Linked DNA regions of Homo sapiens: region 1 is linked to region 2. The links come from fine-mapping of genetic effects on gene expression. A gene starts in region 2. The other region holds a variant in brackets. All regions are shown on one strand. Distances are from middle to middle.

Evidence for each region. PIP is the estimated chance that this variant, and not a neighbour inherited with it, causes the effect.
Region 1: its variant is the best candidate, but not a certain one, in a credible set for the expression of SLC27A2 in caudate (GTEx, PIP 0.50).

Annotation. Positions count from the first base shown.
Region 1 is chr15:50,124,732-50,135,365 of GRCh38, reverse strand. It overlaps a transcript of ATP8B4 not described here. Among named protein-coding and RNA genes, the nearest start is that of ATP8B4, 11 kb to the right of the region's middle. The variant G/A (reference allele first, on the strand shown) is at 4,819.
Region 2 is chr15:50,176,786-50,187,419 of GRCh38, reverse strand. SLC27A2 (solute carrier family 27 member 2) reads right to left here and starts at 5,224. Exons shown (of 10, transcript NM_003645.4): 1 at 4,515-5,224. The coding sequence starts at 4,992. It also overlaps a transcript of ATP8B4 not described here. RefSeq lists silencers at 4,623-4,722, 4,993-5,332.

The DNA of each region.
Region 1 (10,634 bases), 52 kb after region 2:
GTGGTTAAAGATTGAGAGCAATATGGAAAAACTATTCAGAATATTGTTGGAGGGAAAATCCAGATAATGAAATGTAGAGTACCTCCTTATCAACCTACAAGCTGAATTTGTCACACTAAATATTTAATGAAGAGAAAACTGAGAAAGTTTAGAGATGAATGATGTGTCACACTCATATCTCAAAAGGAGAAAAGATAGCTTTTAGATTTCAACCAGCTAAGGACTAAAGGACTGGGGACATAAAACCATTTAAATTTTCCTCTAAGATTAGATTTTGAGGCTCTAAGTTAAGGCTTGTTGTTCTAGACAACCCACTTGAACATTCAGAAAACCTGAAGAATCTTTTTAACAATGTTCAGGTTTTGTTTTACTGCTGTGAGAGTAAAAATAACTTCACCCTCACATCTGATGAGTCACAGAGTGACTGTTGAGCTTGAAATGTTCTCTACTTCTGCTTTGTGATGAGCTAGCTGAGCATTGGTATGCAGAACTCAAACAGATGGACCAGAATTTGTTCCACGTTCACTCTCCTTATTTTTGTCAATGCCACCAACATTCCCCTAGCCATTAGGGCAAAGAATGTGACATCATCTTTGACATTTTACCTCTTCCTTCCCCTTCTGTTGCCAAATGTTGTCAGTTCTATATTTGGAATATTTCTTGAATCTATACTTTGTTCTCCATTCTTGTTGACACTGCCTTAGGCTATTATTGTCATGTACTAGGATAATTGTAAGGGTCATAATCTAACCCTAACATATGTTTTTTCCCCTGATTTCCCGTTATCTCCTATGCACTCCACTTGCCAGATAGACTGAAGTACAGTATTTGATGTTCTTTGCAGATACTCTGTTTTCTGACTTCTCTGTCTTTGTTCCTGCTGTTCTTTCTACTTGAATGGCTTTCACTCCTTATTGTTGTATACAGGAATCACACCAATTTTCAAGGACTAGCTCAAGAGCTTTCTCTTCCCCAAAGTCTGCTCTGATCTTGACCCTCTTCTCACTTGCCTTTCTTTCCCATTGCAACTTTCTTTCCACCTTTATAAGAGCGCTGATCATTGCATAGTTTACTTGCCATAGTTATTTTTACATTATGTTTTATTTCTTCTGCTAAACTCCAACTTTTAATTTTTATTTATTTTTACTTTTGACAGTCTATTTTTCTTTTTTTCCATTTCCCTCTCACTGACAGTCTATCATTCTTACATATTAATTTATTTTTCCTTAGTTTTACTGAGGTATAATTTATGAATAAAAATTATCTATATTTAAGGTATACAATGTGATGATTTGATATACATATACATTGTGAAATAGTTACCATAATCAAGCTAATTAACATATCCAATCACCACACAGTTACCATTTTTTTATTTTAAATTTTTATTTTTTATAGAGGTGGGGTCTTGCTATGGTGCCCAGGCTGGTCTTAAGCTCCTGGCCTCAGCGATCCTCCTGCCTTGGCCTCCCAAAGTGTTGCGATTCCATGCATGAACCACCATACCTGGCTCATTATTTTGTGTGTGTGGAGAGAATGCTTAAGATTTACTCTCTTAGCAAATTCCAAGTATACAATGCAGTATTATTAACTATAATCATCATGTTGTATGTTAGATCTCCAAAACATATTCATCTTATGACTGAAAGTTCATAAATTTTGACCAACATCTCCCCATTTCTCTAACCCCAGCCCCTGGCAACTGCTTATTATGCTCTCTGCTTCTGTGAGTTTGACTTTCTTATTTTTAATTTATTTTTGTTTTTTATTTTTGATACAGGGTCTCACTCTGTCACCCAGGCTGGAATGCAGTGGCGTGATCATGGCTCACTGCAGCCTCCACCTCCCCAGACTCAGGTGATTCACCTGAGTAGCTACTCAGCCTCCTGAGTAGCTGGGACTACAGGCACATGCCACCACGCCTGGCTAGTTTTTTGTAATTTTTTTTTTGTAGAGATGAAGTTTCCCCATATTGCACAGGCTGGTCTCAAACTCCTGGGCTCAAGCAATCCTCCTGCCTTTGCTTCCCAAAGTGCTAGGATTATAGGTGTCGGCCACTATGCCCAGTGAGTTTGACTTTTTTAGATTTCACATGTAAGTGAGAATTATACAGTATTTATCTTTCTGTTTCTGGTCTATTTCACCTAGCATAATGTCTTCCAGGCTGATCTAGGTTGTCACAAATGGAAGGATTTTCTTCATTTTCATGGCTGAATAATATTCCATTGTATGTACAAAACTTCAAGTTTTTTAAAAATTATACTTTAAGTTCTGGAATACATGTGCAGAATGTGCAGGTTTGTTACATGAGTATACATGTGCCATTGGTGGTTTGCTGCACCTATCAACCCATCATCTACATTAGGTATTCTCCTAATGCTATCCCTCCCCTAGCCCACCACCCCTCAACAGGCCCTGGTGTGTGATGTTCCCCTCCCTGTGTCCATGTGTTCTCATTGTTCAACTCCCACTTTTGAATGAGAACATGTGGTGTTTGCTTTTCTGTTCCTGTGTTAGTTTGCTGAGAATGATGGCTTCCAGCTTCATCCATGTCCCTGCAAAGGACATGAACTCATCCTTTTTTGTGGCTGCATAGTATTCCATGGTGTACATGTGCCACATTTTCTTTATCCAGTCTGTCACTGATGGGCATTTGGGTTGGTTCCAAGTCTTTGCTAGTGTGAATAGTGCTGCAGTAAACATATCTGTGCCTGTGTCTTTATAGTAGAATGATTTATAATCCTTTGAGTATATACCCAGTAATGGGATTGCTGGGTCAAATGGTAATTCTGCTTCTAGATTCTTGAGGAATTGCCACACTGTCTTTCACAATGGTTGAACTAATTTACACTCCCACCAACAATTTAAAAGCGTTCCTATTTCTCCACATCCTCTGCAGGGTCTGTTGTTTCCTGACTTTTTAATGATCGCCATTCTAACTGGCATGAGATGGTGTCTTATTGTGGTTTTGAATTGCATTTCTGTAATGACCAGTGATGATGAGCCTTTTTTCATGTTTGTTGGTTGCATAAGTGTCTTCTTTTGAGAAGCGTCTGTTCATGTCCTTCACCCACTTTTTTATGGATCCATAAAAGAATCCATATCTAATTAATATTCATATTACCAATGCAAGCTTAGGATGGCTGTTCCTGTACTTTTTATTATGAAAGTCATGAAACAGAATACTAATTATTTAATAGTAATACAGCCTGTACTTAAATAAATATTGCCAATAACTTGTTTATTTTCAAGTTGGTTTCGGGGGTGCCAAACCACAGGCCAATTGTTGAATGACTATTATAGTGTGTGTGTGAGTACTATAATCAGGCATAGAAACAATGGCCTTTGGCATTACCTTTAAAAATAAGTGAAAGGACAAAATAAATCTAATAAGAATTTGGACTAATATAAATATAATCAGGTTAAATTTCCAGAACAAAACATTTTTGTTTCTAATGCTGAGTAACAGGTGCAAGAGCAGTAGCTGCGTGATTTTATAACCATTATTTTTAAAATATTTCTAATTACATGATAATATTAATTGAAATATAAATATTTTTAGTATTTTAGTATTAAAATATTTATATTTCAGTTAATATTAGTATAATATAATATTATATGAATATAATAATATATAAATATTGTTAGTATTATTCCAAAGATACTACTAAGAGTTTGAAGTATATCAATGCTTATATATTAGTGTTAAACATTTGATTATAAGATATTGAAATGTTACTCCCCTTTTTGCCTAATTGTGATGAACTAGAGCTTATATTTCTAGCATATAAATGAAGAATCAGACATATCTGGTTCCTTGGGGATGAAACATTCACACCAGCTCCTCTAGCGAATAAAAGGAGAATCATTATAGAGAGGCAGAGATAGTGGATTGGTTAGGCACATAGATTCTAGAACCAGACTGTCAGGTTCAAATTCCACTTCTGCCATTTTCTAGCTCTGCAGCTTTGTGAAAGTTCTTTAACCTCTCTGTTTCTCTGATTCTTTATCTGTAAAGGATAGAATTATTGTAATATGAAATGAATTACTATATATGAAGCACTTAGAACTATTAAGTACTGCATAGCTATTAGAAGTTCTTACCTATCATTATTGATGTGGTTAGGTTTTGTGTCCCCATCCAAATCTCATTTTTAATTGTAATCTTCATAATCCCCATAATCCCCATGTGTCAAGGAGAGATCAGGTGGAGGTAATTGAATCATGGGGGCAGTTTCCCCCATGCTGTTCTCGTGATAGTGAGTGAATTCTCATGAGATCTGATGGTTTTATAAGGGGCTCTTTCCCCTTCACTAGGCACTTCTCCTTCCTGCTGCCTTGTGAAGAAGGTGCCATGCTTTCCCTTCACCTTCTGCCATGATTGTAAGTTTCCTGAGAACTCCCCAGCCATGCTGAAACTGTGAGTCAATTACACCTCTTTTGTTTATAAATTACCCAGTCTTGGGTAGTTCTTTATATCAGTATGAAAATGGACTAATACAATTACTAACATAGAACGTTAGACTAAGGAGGGTTGCTTAGACATTGCAATCCAAGACTCTTATTTATTTTTATTTTTTTAATTTTTTTTGAGTCAGAGCCTTGCTCTGTCACCAGGCTGGAGTGCAGTGGCACCATCTCGACTCACTGCAGCCTCTGCCTCCTGGGTTCAAGCAATTCTCCTGCCTCAGCCTCCTGAGTAGCTGGGACTACAGGCGCCTGCCACCACGCCTGGCTAATTTTTTATATTTTTAGTAGAGACGGGGTTTCACCTTGTTAGCCAGGATGGTCTCGATCTCCTGACCTTGTGATCCGCTC[G/A]CCTCAGCCTCCCAAACTGCCGGGATTACAGGCATAAGCCACTGCACCCAGCCAAGACTCTTATTTTTTAGATGAAGAAACTGAGACCCCAAGAAGTTGAGTGACTTATATAAGAATACTCAGTTACTCACCAGAGCCTGGGTAATCTTATCACAGGAGTCCTGGGCTCTTACATTCTGTGCTAAGCCCAGTGCTACCAGTGGGAAATTGAGTTGCTACCCTCAGGTATTAGAGACCCAGACAAGTGGACAGGTGTGATTATAGCAAGGCAAGTGCCATGATGGGGAAAGGCAGCATATCATGGGAGCCCAGAGAAGCTCTGATTTCTTAAAATTCTCTGAAGAGGGTTCCTAGAGGAAGTGAGAATGCAGTTAAGACCTGAAAGATGTGGAAAATTTAGCCAGGTAAACAAGGCAGGGAAAGGGCATCTATGCAGGCTGTGAAAAGGCCTCAACATTCATATAGAGTAGAGAACCAAAGAAGTCTAGTCTGGCCAAGTGGTGGAGACCTCTAGATCTCTTTATAGCAAATGAAAATCTCCCTAGTACTCTACCATGTAATTTCTTTTCTTTTCTTTCTTTTTTTTTTTTTTTTTTTTTTTGAGTCAGAGTCTTGCTCTGTCACCAGGCTGGAGTGCAGTGGCACCATCTCGACTCACTGCAGCCTCCGCCTCCTGGGTTCAAGCGATTCTCCTGCCTCAGCTTCCCAAGTAGCTGGGACTACAGGCACGTGCCACCATGCTCAACTAATTTTTGTATTTTTAGTAGCGACGGGGTTTCACCATGTTGCCAAGGATGGTCTCGATCTCTTGACCTAGTCTACCACATAATTTCAATACTGGCCATTAATTAAAATCCCCTTTTGCATTTGTGCTGCATTGAATAGTGTGGCCCAAAATTCATGTCTACCTGGAATGTTGGAATGTGGCCTTACTTGGAAATGGAGTCTTTGCAGATGTTAAGATTGAGGTCATATTTGATTAGAATGGAGCCCAAATCTAATCATGTCCTGATAAGAGGGCCATATAAAGACATGAAGAAACAGAGAAGACGCACAAAGGGCATGCCATGTGTTGATAGAGGGAGAGTGTGGAGGGATGGGTCTACAAGCCAAAGAATGCCAAAGATTGTCAGCAAGTACCAGAAGCTGAAGAGAGGCATGGAACATATTCTCCCTCAGAACCTCCATAAGAAACCAGCTTTGCCAACACCTTGATTTTGGTCTTCCAGCCTCTAGAACTGTGAGAGAATCAGTTTCCCTTGTTTTAAGCCACCCAGCTTGTGGTACTTTGCTATTCCAGCCCTAGGAAACTAATACAGCGTTCTTGATATGAATTTGACTCCTCAAGATAACAAGAAAAAAAAACAGATTGCATTTAGTGATGGACATGAGGTAGCTGGGGTCACAATTTACTCACACTATTACCTATATGCCCTAAAAAATGTGGCTACTTAACTTTTATTTATTTATTTATTTTTTTGAGACGGAGTCTCGCTCTGTCACCCAGGCTGGAGTGCAATGACGCGATCTCAGCTCACTGCAACCTCCACCTCCCGGGTTCAAGTGATTCTTCTGCCTCAGCCTCCTGAGTAGCTGAGATTACAGGTGCGCACCACCAGGCCCAGCTAATTTTTGTATTTTTAGTAGAGACAGGGTTTCACCATGTTGGTCAGTCTGGTCTCGAACTCCTGACCTTGTGAGTTCTCGAACTCCGCCCACCTTGGCCTCCCAAAGTGCTGGGATTATAGGCATGAGCCACTGCGCCCAGCCTACTTAACTTTTTACAAAGGATCTGTCCTTTTTCACTAACTCACACACTCCAAAGGGTAAGTAGGGAAAAATAATCCCCAATAAACCTTCCACTGATCAATTTACCAACCACAGTCTTTTCCAGTTCAAATAAGCTTTTGATTATTTAGTCTTTTTTAGGGCCTTTGGGTGTCCCTCTCCTCTCCTGCTTCTCTCCAGAATGGCATCACAGAGAACCTGTGTGACTCTGTGACAGTAGAGGGAAGTGGGAGCCTTGGATCCATGCCAGGTCCTCTGGATTCTCTTTGCACAAGCAGATCTTGTCATTTTGGCCCAGGCCTTGCCCTTCATCAGCCACAAGGAGGCAGGAACATAGCCTCAAGCATCTGCAGCCACCTTTCTCCTCCAGTGTTCCATACTGCTCCCAGCTTTGCTGGATCTGATGCTCTGATGGAGAAGGGCACCCTTCAGACCCAAAGGAAATGGGTGCTTAGCCTAGATTTTCCATGTGACTCCAACTCTCTGGATGTTTCTAAAGCCAGCTCCCTCTTGAAGTTTAGCTCTGAAGCTAGGAAAACCCAGGACTCTGGTGTCTGTCTCCATGATTCCCCTTCTTTCGCTGGTCTCTGGCATGACTTAACTCCATAAGTGTTCCTCCTGCTTTTCTGGGGTGATATTAATTCCTTCTTTCCTTGACAGACTGGATACAAAACGAAACACTGGCTTACTCAAAAGAGAAGCTCTGAAGGTAGCACCTTCCTTACCCTGAAATGCACAGAAACATGGGGTTGCACAAGAAGTAGCTCCATCATCTGCTCATCTGCTGTAGCTCCTGGGCCTTGAGACTGGGGCACACTCTACCTAAAGATGGCTCAGCATTGGTGGGGATGTGTGCAGAACCACAGTGAGGCACACCTTGGTATTGTTCATCTGAAATTAATATTTCTTCAAAGACAGACCTTACTGGTGTTTGTTCCTCTCCCTATGTATAATGGGATATCTCTAGAGGACAGGATGGTCCTAGAGCTGCCTTGAACAGTTTTATCTCCCTCCTGCCATCCGATGCTTTAACCTCCTGCTCCAGTGCAGTCTTCTAGTTCTGTAGGATCAATTTCTTTGCAATCGGTATTATAGCACAAGCTGCAGCAGTTTATTTATCTAAGAGAGAATGCGTCTAGGTTGCTATCCTCAGAGATAGTGTGTATAAGGCAACATTTGAGGCCTCCATGACTCAATTCTTGCCTAATCTTTGCCTGGTCTCTGATCCATTAGGACCTAGAAATTACATTGACTGATATACTGAGATGATGGCAAACTCACCTTTGCTCTCCACATTCACGATTGCTGTGGGATGTATGTTTGTGACTCACTCAAGCCATTTAGAATGGAAGCCCAAGTCACAGTAGAGGAAGGCCATTGTTACTGAACTGAACATGGGTCAGTTAATCTGCCTGCCCATGCAGCAAAGCCAAATACTAACACTGGGATTGATTTGCAGTGAGGAAAAGTGAAGCATTTATTGCAGGGTGCTATGCAAGGAGAATTGGGCAGCTAATCTTAAAACCCAAACCCCTTGATGGCTTCCATGTAAGAGTTTTTAAAGGCAGGGAGGCAGAGGTTCCAGGCAGAGCCATAAATCAATACATGGAGGCTATTGGTTTGACCTAAAAAGGGGGAGACATCTTGAAGTGGGGGTCCACAGGTTACAGGTAGATTCAAAGATTTCCCGATCTGCGATTGGTTAAGATTTGTTTAAAAACTTGGGGTCAGCAGAAAGGAATGTTGAACTCTGGCCTGTAGGTATAACTTCTGCCAGGCCCCTCAGGAAGAAATTTAGAATGAAGAACAGTGGTCAGATTTCAGTCTCCAGTTCCCCCTTCCCCAAGGTCTGTTGTGCCAGTGGATGGTGTTTTCCATTTGGTGGCGGGGGGGTGTGGGGGCTGTGGGCAGGTTTCTGCAAAACAGCTCAGGGACATATGTTAAGATGTTATTTTTAGTTTCTATTGGGACTCTAACTTCTTTGGCTATTGTTTCAAGCTATTATTACCTCCTTGCTTATCAGATTGCCTGCCACCCTCCACCAAGCATGGAAATAAAGGAAAATCTTGCGTTTCTTCAATGGAAATTCCAGGCACCTAGCTAGTCCTGAGAATTAAATGAGCAACTTGATAAGTAAGAGAGTAATAGTAGCTTAAAATAATAGCTAAAGAAGTTATAGTCATAAGATGTTTGGTTCTCTACAGAAGCTAAAGATAACATCTTGACATATGACCCTGAGTTTACTTTTCAGAAACTCGGACCTCCACCAAATGGAAATCTTTCTTGCACAAGGTCCAGGAACCTTCTCTTGGGATCTGGATTGGGATCCCTTTCCAGTAACAATATCAGGTCATCGGGACATTTCCTGGGTCTGTTCAGTAAACATTATTAACCTGTTCCCTTAACTGAAACTGTGTCTAAGAATGACTAATCTTCTGGGAATGTAAGATGGAGTTGCTCTGGTTCAAAGGCCTTGGACGCCTCTGACAGTATTAGTGAAGTGTTTTTTTTTTTTTTTTGGACTGTTAGCTTGTTAGGAACTAACAAGACCCTCCCTAACTCATCTACTCATCTTTCAGGACTCAGCTTCACTTGTTCTGAGGGTTTCCCGTGACACCTCCACACCCACACTGAAATATGGCTTCCCCTCTCCTGTAGTTCCGAAGCCTGTTTGGACAAGGGACACCTAAATTAGAGTTACTATCACATTGTGTCACAATTTGTTCACAACTATTTTCTCTTCCACTAGAAGGATTCTTGTTAGGGCAGATATCGACCTAAAAGAAAGAATCCCAGGCAAAATAGATATAACTAGAGGGTTTATTTGGGCCAAGCTTGAGGATTGCAACCTGGGAGCATAGATTCAGTTTTCTGCAGTTACAAGCTGTAGCAGCAGTTACAAGCAGGTTTTTAAAGAAAAGAAGAGGCAGTTTCTAAGTTGTTTACCAAGAATTTACATTAAAAATAACATAAGTTATTGATTGGCTATATGTTGTTTCTTTGTATTAAAATTCCAGGAACATGAAGATAATAGGTGAGGCAGGTAGTCAGGAACAAAATGCCTTTAAACAATTGCCCCCACAGATGGGTTTGGGGGTCACATGACTGAAATCTTAGACTCCTGTCTTTTTGGGCCTGATAAATTTTTCGAACCTCCCGTAGTGCAGACTGCTCTGAGCTATTTTTCTGTTCTCACAGAGACCAGGTCTCAGTTACCTTGGGGTCCCCAATGCCTTGCAGAGGGGTTGATACAGAATTGGGGCTTGGAAAATGGTGAAGAATGTGTGAAATGTCCCAGAGACATGTCCTGATTAAGAGCCTGAACTCCTTTGATCTTGGACCCTACACTTCCCAAGTGTCATATAAGGGGTAGGAAATTTTCACACCCAGTGACCTGGAGGACAGACTAAAAGGGTAAAGAGATGAAGAGCAGAGCGTCTCTTCTCATTGGGATGACAGTTTGCTAAGGAGAAAATGGGGCTGGAGTGAGTGTTAAAAGACCCTAAGTGTCTGGCTGCTCCTTGGGTCTTGGAGATTCTGAGATAACAAGAACCATGTAGCCCTGAAACTGATCCAGATCGGGTTCATTGTTCTACTACTCCTTTCTTGTAAATGCCCTGATTGTTGGAAGGACTTCTTATGATGTCAGTCTATAAAAAAGCGGAGGCCAAAAGTCTTTACTGGATACCCATTATGTGCAAAGAAGATACTATACTCCCCTGATAGCAAGAGATACATTATTTTAGGGAGTGTTTCTCTTGCTGATGCCAACAGCCTATTCCAGGATCCAGTTTTGGCTGTGGAGCATTCATCACTTGGAAATGAATTGTTAGAATGACTTTTACAACTAGAGTTGCCAATAGTCTGGCTTGGTGTTAGGCTGTCTGGTTTAAAGCTGGGTCATCTAGTTCTGGAACACATGGTTCAGATAGTATTTGAAAGGGCAAATTAAATGCAAATCACCTGGTTTTGGTGAGTGGGCTTGCATAACAACAAGCCCTGTAGGATCTATTGTTCTTGCTTGTGTC
Region 2 (10,634 bases):
TCCCATATTGTGTGAAATAAAATATGTTTTACTGTTTTACCCATATTCTGTATTTGGAAAGTTGGGTGAAAAACTACTGGCCCAGCCATGTGGCTTTTATTAGTTACAACATTGATACAGGTTCTTATCCTTGGAGACAATTTTCCCATGTGATTACCTAGATCATACCCTGCCCTGGAGAACGATCCTGAAATGTACAACAGAGAGAAAGTCATATTCTCTGGGAAACAGTGCTGCTGCTTGATTCAGGGAAGTGTTTATGAGTCTTGACTTTCTGTAACTATAGTAAAATTGAAAAGAGTAATTGAGTACTGAAATTCCTGATAGGGTTGAGTCCTGTTAAGTGTTATAAAGAAACCCCCAAATTCATAACAACTGGATCAATCCTCATGATAAATGCCTCTGTGCTGGTCCTTTACATATACTGCAGAATTTGACTGACAGATGGAGCTCAAGAGCTCTTACTAGTCCACAAGCCCTGGGCTGAAACTCAAAATATGGAATCAAACTGACATTTATGTATCATGTTCAAGATGGTGTGATAGAATAAACAGTGCCTCGTAAGTGAGAAAAAAATATTTGGGTTCTATCTCTACCTTTCTGTTCCTAACTATCCACTTGATCATGGGCAATTCATATCATCCCTCTAGGCCTTTGTTTATACAGCTATAAGACAATGAGAAGGCCAGTAGCAGTGGCTCACGCCTCTAATCCCAGCACTTTGGGAGGACGAGGCAGGTGGATCACGAGGTCAAGAGATGGAGATCATCCTGGCCAACATGGTGAAACCCCATCTCTACTGATAATAACAAAAATTAGCTGGGCATGGTGGTGGGCATCTGTAGTCCCAGCTACTTGAGGGGCTGAGGTAGGAGAATGGCTTGAACCTGGGAGGCGGAGGTTGCCGTGAGTCGAGATCGCGCCACGGCACCTCCAGCCTGGGCAACAGAGCGAGACTGTCTCAAAAACAAACAAACAAACAAACAAACAAACAACAATGAAAAACAATGGGAAACTAGACTGTTTCTCAAAGCCTAGTCCTCAGACCATTTGTTTCAAAATCACCTAGGGTTGGCGGTGGGGTTTCTTATAAAAATACACATTCCTGGGCCCCAACATAGTCTTACTGAATCAGCATTTTTGGGGATGATCTCAGAAATTTTATTTTTTTGTTTTGAGACAGGGTCTCACTCTATCACCCAGGCCGGAGTGTAGTGGCACAGTCAGAGCTCAGTGCAGCCTCAACCTCCCGGGCTCAAGCAATCCTTTCACCTCAGCCTCCCCAGTAACTGGGACCACAGGTGCTCACCATCATGCCCAGTTAATTTTTGTATTTTTTTTTTTTGTAGAGATGGGGTTTCATCATGTTGCCCAGGCTAGTCTCGAACTTCTGGGCTCAAGTGATCCTCCCTCCTCCACTTCCCAAAGTGCTAGGATTACAGGAGTGAGCCATAGTGTCCAGCCTCAGAATGTTTTTAAAAGTAAGCTTCCGGCCAGGCGTGGTGGCTCACGCCTGTAATCCCAGCACTTTGGGAGGCCAAGGCCGGCAGATCACGAGGTCAGGAGATCAAGACCATCCTGGCTAACACGGTGAAACCCTGCCCCTACTAAAAATACAAAAAATTATCCGGGCGTGGTGGCGGGTGCCTGTAGTCCCAGCTATTCAGGAAGCTGAGGCAGGAGAATGGCGTGAACCAGGGAGGTGGAGCTTGCAGTGAGCCGAGATCACGCCACAGCAGCCTGGCCTGGGCGAAAGAGCGAGATTCCGTCTCAAAAAAAAAAAAAAAAAAAAAAAAAAGTAAGCTTCCTAGGTGATTCTTGGGCTTATTAAAGTTTCTTCTGTAAACTTTTTTTTTTAAAGTATAACACATTCATTAAACTTACAGGATTATAGGGTTAGAATATCTCTAAGGTCCCTTCCAACACCAAAGAATTCTAAGAATCAGTCCATTCAACATATTTTCCCATGGGCATGTTTAGTAAACATGCAACTCTGTGACAGACTGTAATTTTGCTTCATGTGCAAAGGTATCTCAGTGATTTGGAAAAACTGATTTTTTTTCAAATATGTGGCCTCCCTCAGAGGTCAGTTGACGGTCCAGAGAGTGCCTTAGGTCCACTGTAAAGTCTGGTTCACGTTTGAGTTTAATATAGAAATTCCCATATATTCTCTATGTAAACACATAGCTCTATGGCAGACAACTGTTAGCTGGGTGGGAAGAGGGTATCTGGTTGTAATTCTGACTTTATTGCAGAATCAAACTGTATTATGGTCATTTAATCCTGAACTTCTTTGTCAACAAAACTCCAAACCCTGTGACCTCCCTCTCAGGGGACCTGGGATACTAAAGTGATAAACAGAATTTAAATGCTTCCTGAAGTGGTACAAAGATCACTGTGTTAATAATTTCCCTCCAAGCAAGCTGGTAAAGTAATAGGCTTAGGAGAGTCTTCTAGTTACAAAGTAGTGAAGTTATCGCTTTTCTCAGGCAGCTAGAAATTAATGGGAATTTTCTTGAAAGGACCATCTCTTCCAAATAATTTAGCCACCTTTAAACTTGTCTTTTTTTTATTCTGTTTTTTGAGATGGAGTCTCACTCTGTCCCCCAGGCTGGAGTGCAGTGGCATGATCTCGGCTCACTGAAACCTCTGCCTCCTGGGTTCAGGTGATTCTCCTGCCTCAGCCTCCCAGGTAGTTGGGATTACAGGCACGCGCCACCATGCCCAGCTAATTTTTTTTTTTTTAGTCGAGACGGGGTTTTTGCTATGTTGGCCAGGCTAGTCTTGAACTCCTAACCTCAAGTGATCCACCTGCCTCGGCCTCCCAAAGTGCTGGGATTACAGGCTTGAGCCACTGCGCCCAGCCTAAAATTTGGCTTTCTGCTTTTAAACTTTTATACAAAGCCTATATTTTTTGGATTATTTATTTCATGCCACATGAAGCAGGTGTGTAAGATTCCTGGTTTCTCACAAGTGAATTAACCTTTCATCTTTCTGTAACCCGCTTAGCTTGCCTCAGTTTCCCCAGCTATGAAATGAAGGGGTAGAGCAAGTGGACACTTCATCCCTTCCAGCACACTTAACAGTTTACATCCATGCAGAGGAAAACAATAAGATGTAGGAAAGAGGCTGGGTGTGGTGGCTCACACCTGTAATCCCAGCACTTTGCGAGGCCAAGGTGGGTGGATCGCTTGATCTCAGGAGTTTGAGACCAGCCTGGGCAACATGGTGAAACCCTGTTTCTACCAAAAATAACAAAAAATTAGCTGGGCATGGTGGTGCATGCCTGTGGTCCCAGCTACTTGAGAGGCTGAGCTGGGAGGATCGCTTGAGCCTGGGAGGCAGAGGTTACAGTGAACTGAAATAGCGCCACTGCACTCCAGCCTGGGCAACAGAACGAGACTGTCAAAAAAAAAAAAAAAAAAGATGTAGGAAAGAGCATGGCTTCGAAGTTGGATAGAGCTAGGTTGGAATTTTAAGCCTCAGTTTTCTCAACTGTATAATGGTGGTGGTGGTGGTGGGGATAGTGATATGTTATCTCCCGGGGTAATAAAAGCATCTACTATAGGGCTTAGCACAGAAATGCATTCTAGAAAGCTGAGGCTCCTCGGCTCCCTCGACCCCTACCCTGTCACCCAGGTCTTTCAGCCCACTCCTGTGTAGGCCTCTTCTTACTGACTGAGAGAAGGAACCCTTGGTCCTTATTCAAGTGCAGAGACAAGCTCTCTGGGAGGGGAAAGCCATCAGCCCTGTGAGTAACAGGTTCTCTGTCACTTCCTGACCTTGTCATCACTTAAGTTACTGTTTCAAGTCTGGCTGAAATGTGGCAGGAGCTAACCACAGAACTGAAAGGGTCACTATTGTGATAGATGCAGTGGGGGCTCACAACGGTCCTGTAGCAGATCCCCAGTATCTTCTCCCTGGGGATCAGGTGGGGTCACCTTTGTTCTGCAGGGAGGGGACAGGATGCTAACAGCAGTTGAGAGCTGGAAGCAACATTGAAGCCTGCCTCATTAGAGAGGAGCAAACCAAGGGACAGAGAGGAGAAGTGACTTTCCCATGATCACACAGCCAGTCAAGCAGCAGAGGTGAGAAGAGCCCCTCTGGATCCACTAGAGTTCGCACTCAAGATCCTCTGCATTTTAATGCAGATGTTATAAGTATTGATTAAGAGCTTGGAATTTGGAGATAGATGGCTGGGCATGAGGCTTCACCTCTCAGGACCTCAGTGGTCTCATCTATAAAAGTCCTATAACAAAGCCTACCCATTGTGAGGATTAAAAACCACACTGCCTGTAGAGTGCTTAACACAGAACCTAGCACATTATCAGCTTCCACAACAGGTGGTCCTAAAAGATCATTATTTGCGATTCAAGGAAACACTGCCAACCTTTTTCTATACCTACAGTTCCGATCTGAACCTCCCTCTGCGAACCCCTTATGCCACGCTGTGGCTCGTCAGTCAAGGCGCCGAGAAGCCCTGGTGCCAGGGCAGGGCGATCCTCGGGGCTCACCTGGCGACACCAGCAGCACCTTCGCCCCGCAGCACTGGAAGCAGTGCAGCAGGGACTTCGCGCGGATGTTGTAATTGAGGCACGCCATGGCACAGCCCAGCTTCACCAGCCCCAGCCACAGCCACACGTAGGCCGGCTCGTTACCCATAAGGAGCGCCACGCAGTCTCCCTGGCGCAGGCCGAGGTGGTCGTGCAGCGCCCGGGCCACTTGATTGCTGCGCCGGTCCACCTGCGCGTAGGTGAGAGTCTCGTCGCGGAAGAGCAGAAAAGGCTTGTGTGGCGTCTGGCGCGCTTTCTCCAGGAACGCCCGCAGGATGGTGCGCGCCGGCCGCCGCTTCCCGTAGCTGCGCACCCTCCGGCCCACGGCGGCCACCTTCAAGAAGTAGCCTATGTCCTGGAAGAAGTATGGGCAGCAGAGGTTCACCAGGAGCGGCAGGAACAGCAGTCCCGCCAGGACTGTGTAGATGGCGGAAAGCATGACGGCTGCGGGGCCCTCTGTCCCAGCGAGGGCAGAGGGTTCACCCCGGGCGTGCAGCGCGGCGACTGGGCGGGCTCCGGGCGGACTGGCGGGCTGCGCCGGGGCGCACGCGGCGGGACGCCGGGCTCGCGTGAGATGAAGGGGAAGACAGAGCTCCTCCGCTGCAGGTACCGCCGCGGGCTCCGGAGCAGGTGTAGTCGTATGCGCGTTGCCGGGGGTTCCGGGCAGGACTGGCCGGCTGAGCCCGCCCCCTTGTGGGGGGCAGCCACCTGCTCTCCCGGCCCTCCCACGCGGTCCTCCCGGGGCTGGGCAGGCTGCCCTGCGGCTCACCAGGAGCCTCGGCCACTTCCCAGCTCGAGTCTGGAGGTCTGGGGTCAAGTCTGGACCTCCTCGCGTTGTGACCGAAGTACTTTACCTCTAGGAGCCACGGTTTCTTTAAATGGTGATGAGACGCGCTTAGCGGACGTTGGGAATATTAAAGGAGATATTGCAGGCGTGGGGCTATTATTTGTTACCACTAATAGAATGGCTTATGGAGATGACACTGTTATTACCGATAAAGTGCCTTATAAATGTCAGACAGTCCTATTATTTATTAATAGCGGGTACCAGGTGCCACTGCCAAACCAGAATCTCATCTCTCCTTCCTGGTCCCAAGGGCTTTCCGCCTGGTCTCTCTTTGTTTCTCAGATTTGCTTCCCAGCCCGACTGCCAGGCGGTCTCCTGTAGCGAAGGCTTCAAGGTTGAACAGAAATGCCTGTGGCAGTCACGTCCAGCTCATCCCAAGCCCTGCCAGGTGAGTGAGGGCAGGACACTCTAACCTAGTCGGCCCTGCCTGGTCGGGGGAGTCCTGATTTCGTGAAGAGCAGTGCTACACCGCACCACCTGAAATCAAGCTTTGACATTATTTTACGATTTTGTTCTGTTAAGTGATCCTGCTGTTCCCTCATGTTGAAAGTTGTCAAGTGTTGTCAGCACAGTTCACACATTTAATAAGTGGCTCTGTCAGAGAATAGTATAGTACAGAGGACATTGAGTAAGTGGTATTGGCATGACTCAAAAACCATTTCTTTTAGAGGAAATGTGAACCTTTCTTTTAATTTGCCTTAGTGCTACTTCTGTACGAAGTGAATGCTCACTACTTGCCACTGAGGAGGGTCAGGATCTAAGTAGTGTTTTATTTTCATCCTCTACTGTCCTCCTGTGTTCCTCTATCTTAATTTGATACGATAAATACAGATAATGCTTATTCCTCCCAGACACGCTGCTAGGAGCTTCCCTATGTTACATTTTGGGAGCCTGAGTTATTTTATACAGGTGGCACTTTCATGCTCATTTACAGACAAGAAAGGGAAGCTTAGGTGAATTGAGACAGCCGGTAAGTAATTCGTGGGTTTTGGAAATGGTATCTGTTTGGTCCCGGGGAACCAACTCTTAGCTTATTCTTAGTAACTATACTATGCTGTCCTCCTATTCTCTAGGTTTCTGTCCATGTCCTCTTTTTTTTTCGGTGTGTGTAAAACACACAAAAATGTTTCACATTCCCTCCAGGCCACCCCCTGCCGTTTTTTAGCCTCCTTTTCGTATCCCTAGTAACTGCGCAAGCAACCTTTCCCTTTTCCTGACTTTTTCATTTCTGATCCAGCTACCTGGTTGCATCATTTCCCTGGGGATGAGCTGGGGGCCTTCATCATCCCTGAGGAGAAAGCAGTAGAATTAACCAAAGTGAGGGCCCGACAGAAACCATTCTCATGTGCACTTCTTTCATGGTGAAGCTCAGAGCCAGCCCTTCCTTTTTCATCCCAATGCCACCCTCGTCCCTTGATGGCTAATCGCTTCTGTGTAGCCACCTGCACCCCTCTTCTCTTTTCCTTGAACAGCTACTGTCTACCCAGAGTGCTAGATTACCACAAGGGTCCACTTTTTCCCCTCTTATTCTGAGGATCACTTTAACCTCAGTTACAAGTAAAAGAAAACAAGACCCAAGCTAGCTGAAGCAGAAACAGGAATTTAAGTAGTAACTGGAGAGTCCGGGGCTAAGACATCAAGGATTTTAAATGCTGACACCTGGATCTAGTTTTGCTTTCACTATTTCTCCTCTGCACCTCCTCTGTTCTCATTCAGGCTCTCTGGTTTTTGTCCAAAGATGGCTGCCAACAGCCCTTAGGGGTACATGCTTTCTGGCTCAACTTCAGAGAGAAGTACAGGAATCTTTTTCTTAGGAGTTCTCATAAAAAAAAAAATCCCTGACTGGATTATGCGCCCATTTCTGAACCAATGTCTGTGGGTCCTGGGGAAAAAGGTGCTAGTTGTTTTAAGCCAATCAGCGCTCACCCATGGGGGTGAGAGTATAATCAATTTCACCTAGGCCATTTTGTGGAACGTTTTACGGTATTATTAAAAAGTGGGGTTAGGGAGAGTAAATTTGGGGAAGTAATTTTCAAATGTCTATAATATATACCTTGGGAGTCCCAGTGATTCCAGCTTTGAGCCTGGGATCCAGCTCTTGCTTTATCACGAGGTTAATAGATGTCTTAGTCTGTTTGGGCTGCTATAACAAAATACTGTAAGCTGGGTAGTTTATAAACAACAGAAATTTATTTCTCAGACTTCTGGAGGCAAGTCTAAGATCAAGGTGCCAGCAGATGTGGTGTTTGGTGAAGGGCTACTTTCTCACAGATGGTGCCTTCTCACTGTGTACTGTTTGGTAGAAGGGACAAATTACCTCTCTGGGGCCTGTTTTATGAGGGCACTAATCCCATTCATGAGGGCTCTGCCCTATGATCAAATTACTCCCCAAAGGCTCTACCTCCTAATACCATCACATTGAGGGTTAGGATTTCAATATATGAATTTTGTAGGGGACATGAACATTAAAACCACAGCAATAGTCTTCCTGGAAATATTGCTGCCATCTTATATCTCCACTGCTCAATTATCTTTAGTGGTTCCCCATTGCTTCCTATTGTCTTCCACCAATGACATCTATAGACAGTTGTACTTGTACAGCATACTAGAACATACCTGGCCTAGAGTTGACCAGATGCCCTGGCTTCTGCCTGACTCCTTTGAAAGGTGATCGATAGCTTAGCACGTTGGCTGCCCATTCTTGGTACATCTCTTGGGAACCTCTGGTCTATAAAATGAAATTTAAACTTTATTTTCTGGCTCTTCTGAATCTCACTCAAGCTTTCACTACACTCAATTGACAAATATTTATTGAGTTTCTGCTATGAACCAAACATTATTAGGTATTAAATATTTTAAAATGGACCAAAACTTAATTCTAACTGTTCCTTTTCAAGCGCACTTTGTTTTTAGCAAGTCTGGTCTGCACACTCCTAAAAATGCCCTGCACCTTCCTCTTTCTACTGGCTTGTTCTTACCACTTTCCACCCCTGACCATCCTAACCCTGTAAATCTCAACTCTCCTTTAGGGCAGTAGTTGTTTGATTCCTGAATTTCTTAGTCCCGTGTTATATTTCGAAACCAAGTTAGGGACTCAAAATAAGTAACGACTTCTTAATTTTTCTAGTAAGAACAACCCCCTCCCCCATCACAGTATATTTGTTATTTTATAGAAGAATGACATTTTTGGCACTAAAAAAGTATACCTGAACTGTACACTTAAAAATGGTTAAAATAGTTAATTTTTATGTTATGCATATTTTACCACAATTTTAAAGACAGTAACAATAAACATATAGCCCTTTCCAAGAAAAGACGAAGACAATGTTACACCAACACATAAAAAGTACAGAAATTATCCAAGTGTGGGGGCATGCACCTGTAATTCCAGCTACTCGGGAGACTGAGGCAGGAGGATCACTTGAGGCCAGGAGTTCAAGACTGGACTGGGCAACACAGTGAGACCCCATCTCATATGAAAAACAAAACAAAATAATCTTACAAATTCTCACAAACAGATAAAAATAAAAACATTAAAAATATTTTTGAATGTAGAAAACTGCAACTTTTGTCTGGGTTTTTATACCATATAGAAATTGTTTTTATACAAGTTTGTCTATTCAGTAACATAAATTCCACAGGGAAATATGAAATAGAGCCAGATCTTGGACTTTGATGTAATTTAGGATTTTGTCAGCACTGAGATCTCAGACATGGAGATTCTCCGTCCCCATAGGCTTAGTTAAGCCTCCTCATTCCACTTCTCCCATTCTCTGACATTACTGAGCCTATTCATTTCCTCTATCAAGATTTCGGTCCCTTCCTGGCCAGTCACTTCAACGTGGCCTCCTAGACCCCTCTTTTCCTTAAACTTTCTATCCAGGTATAGATGACCTCAAATGCCCACTGTCTTCTGTCCTATTCTAGGTATTGCAGGAGAAGTTTAGGGGCAAGACAGGATTACTGGGTGTGCATACTGACACCTTCTAGCCTTGGTCAGGACGTTCATCCCTATCATCTATCTCTGCTATTTGAGAGAAGGCTTCCTATTGGCAGTCCCAGACCTTCCCTACCCCCTTCAAAGTTTCCAATCCCAATCTCAAATGTTCTTTTAAAGCAGGTGGCGTCCCTTCCTACTTTATGGAGATGAAGTAGTTCACTATTTCTCAAACTTTACAAGTCTGAGAATCACCTGGGGAACATGCTAAAATATAGTTTATTAAGCCCCATCTCCAAAATTTCTGATTCAAAGAATTCACATCTCTAAGAAGTTACCAGGTATTGCTGACACTGCTAGTCCAGGGACTATACTTTGAGAACTACTGATTTAGTCCATTGGCTTCCAAACTACTCGGTAGAGCCCTAGTGGCTGAGAAGTTACTGAGGAGAGTTCATTGCATAGAGTGGGAAAGGGGCTCTGGGAGGATCCTACCCTAGCTCCAATCAAAACAGCTCATATACTTGTTTTACACTTCCATGTAGAGTTCATGTGAAAAAAAGTATTCCCAAACATTTTCCTTTAAATCTTCCAGCCCATGCTGATCCAGCCCTTGTACTGAACTTATAAACCCATCGCATAGGTGGGCTTTTGATTGTTTCTTACCTGTTAGTTTTGCCTTCGTAACTAGAATTCAATTTCCTGGAATGAAGTAATAGAAAAGATTGTGAGACTTGAAGCCAGAAGACCTGATTTTGAGTCTTTATCTGTCATGCATTGGCTGAGTAGCTTTGAGAAGTGTACTGAGCTCTCACAGTGACTTGTGTTAATTTTGTAGAATTTGAGGCACCTAATGCACAGGGCCATTCTTGACAAAAAAGTATAGATTATGAAGCTTGCAATTTTTGTGACATTACATACTTGGTACAAATAGAAATTTTGTGTGACTGACTCATTCAGTGGTTTGTGGGAAGAATAATCTCTGACTGTTGTTGCCATAAGTTAATCACATTTCTTGAAATGTGGGTGCCTGTCATCCTATTGACTGTCTAGCATGGTACCATTTGAGTATAGGCATACAGGATGTGCAGGTATTCAGCCAACAAAATGGCAAGGGTTTGATGGAGGTGGTATGTGATAAGATTGACCCTCTTTTTGGAGAATGAAAAAAAGGTGAGACTGAGAACAACTGATTATTGATATTAGACATGACAGAGCAGGAAACCCTTGCATTGGCATCCCAGTTGTGCTTGCTACACAGTCAGGACAATTTATAATTTGAGAAAAAGATGTTTGC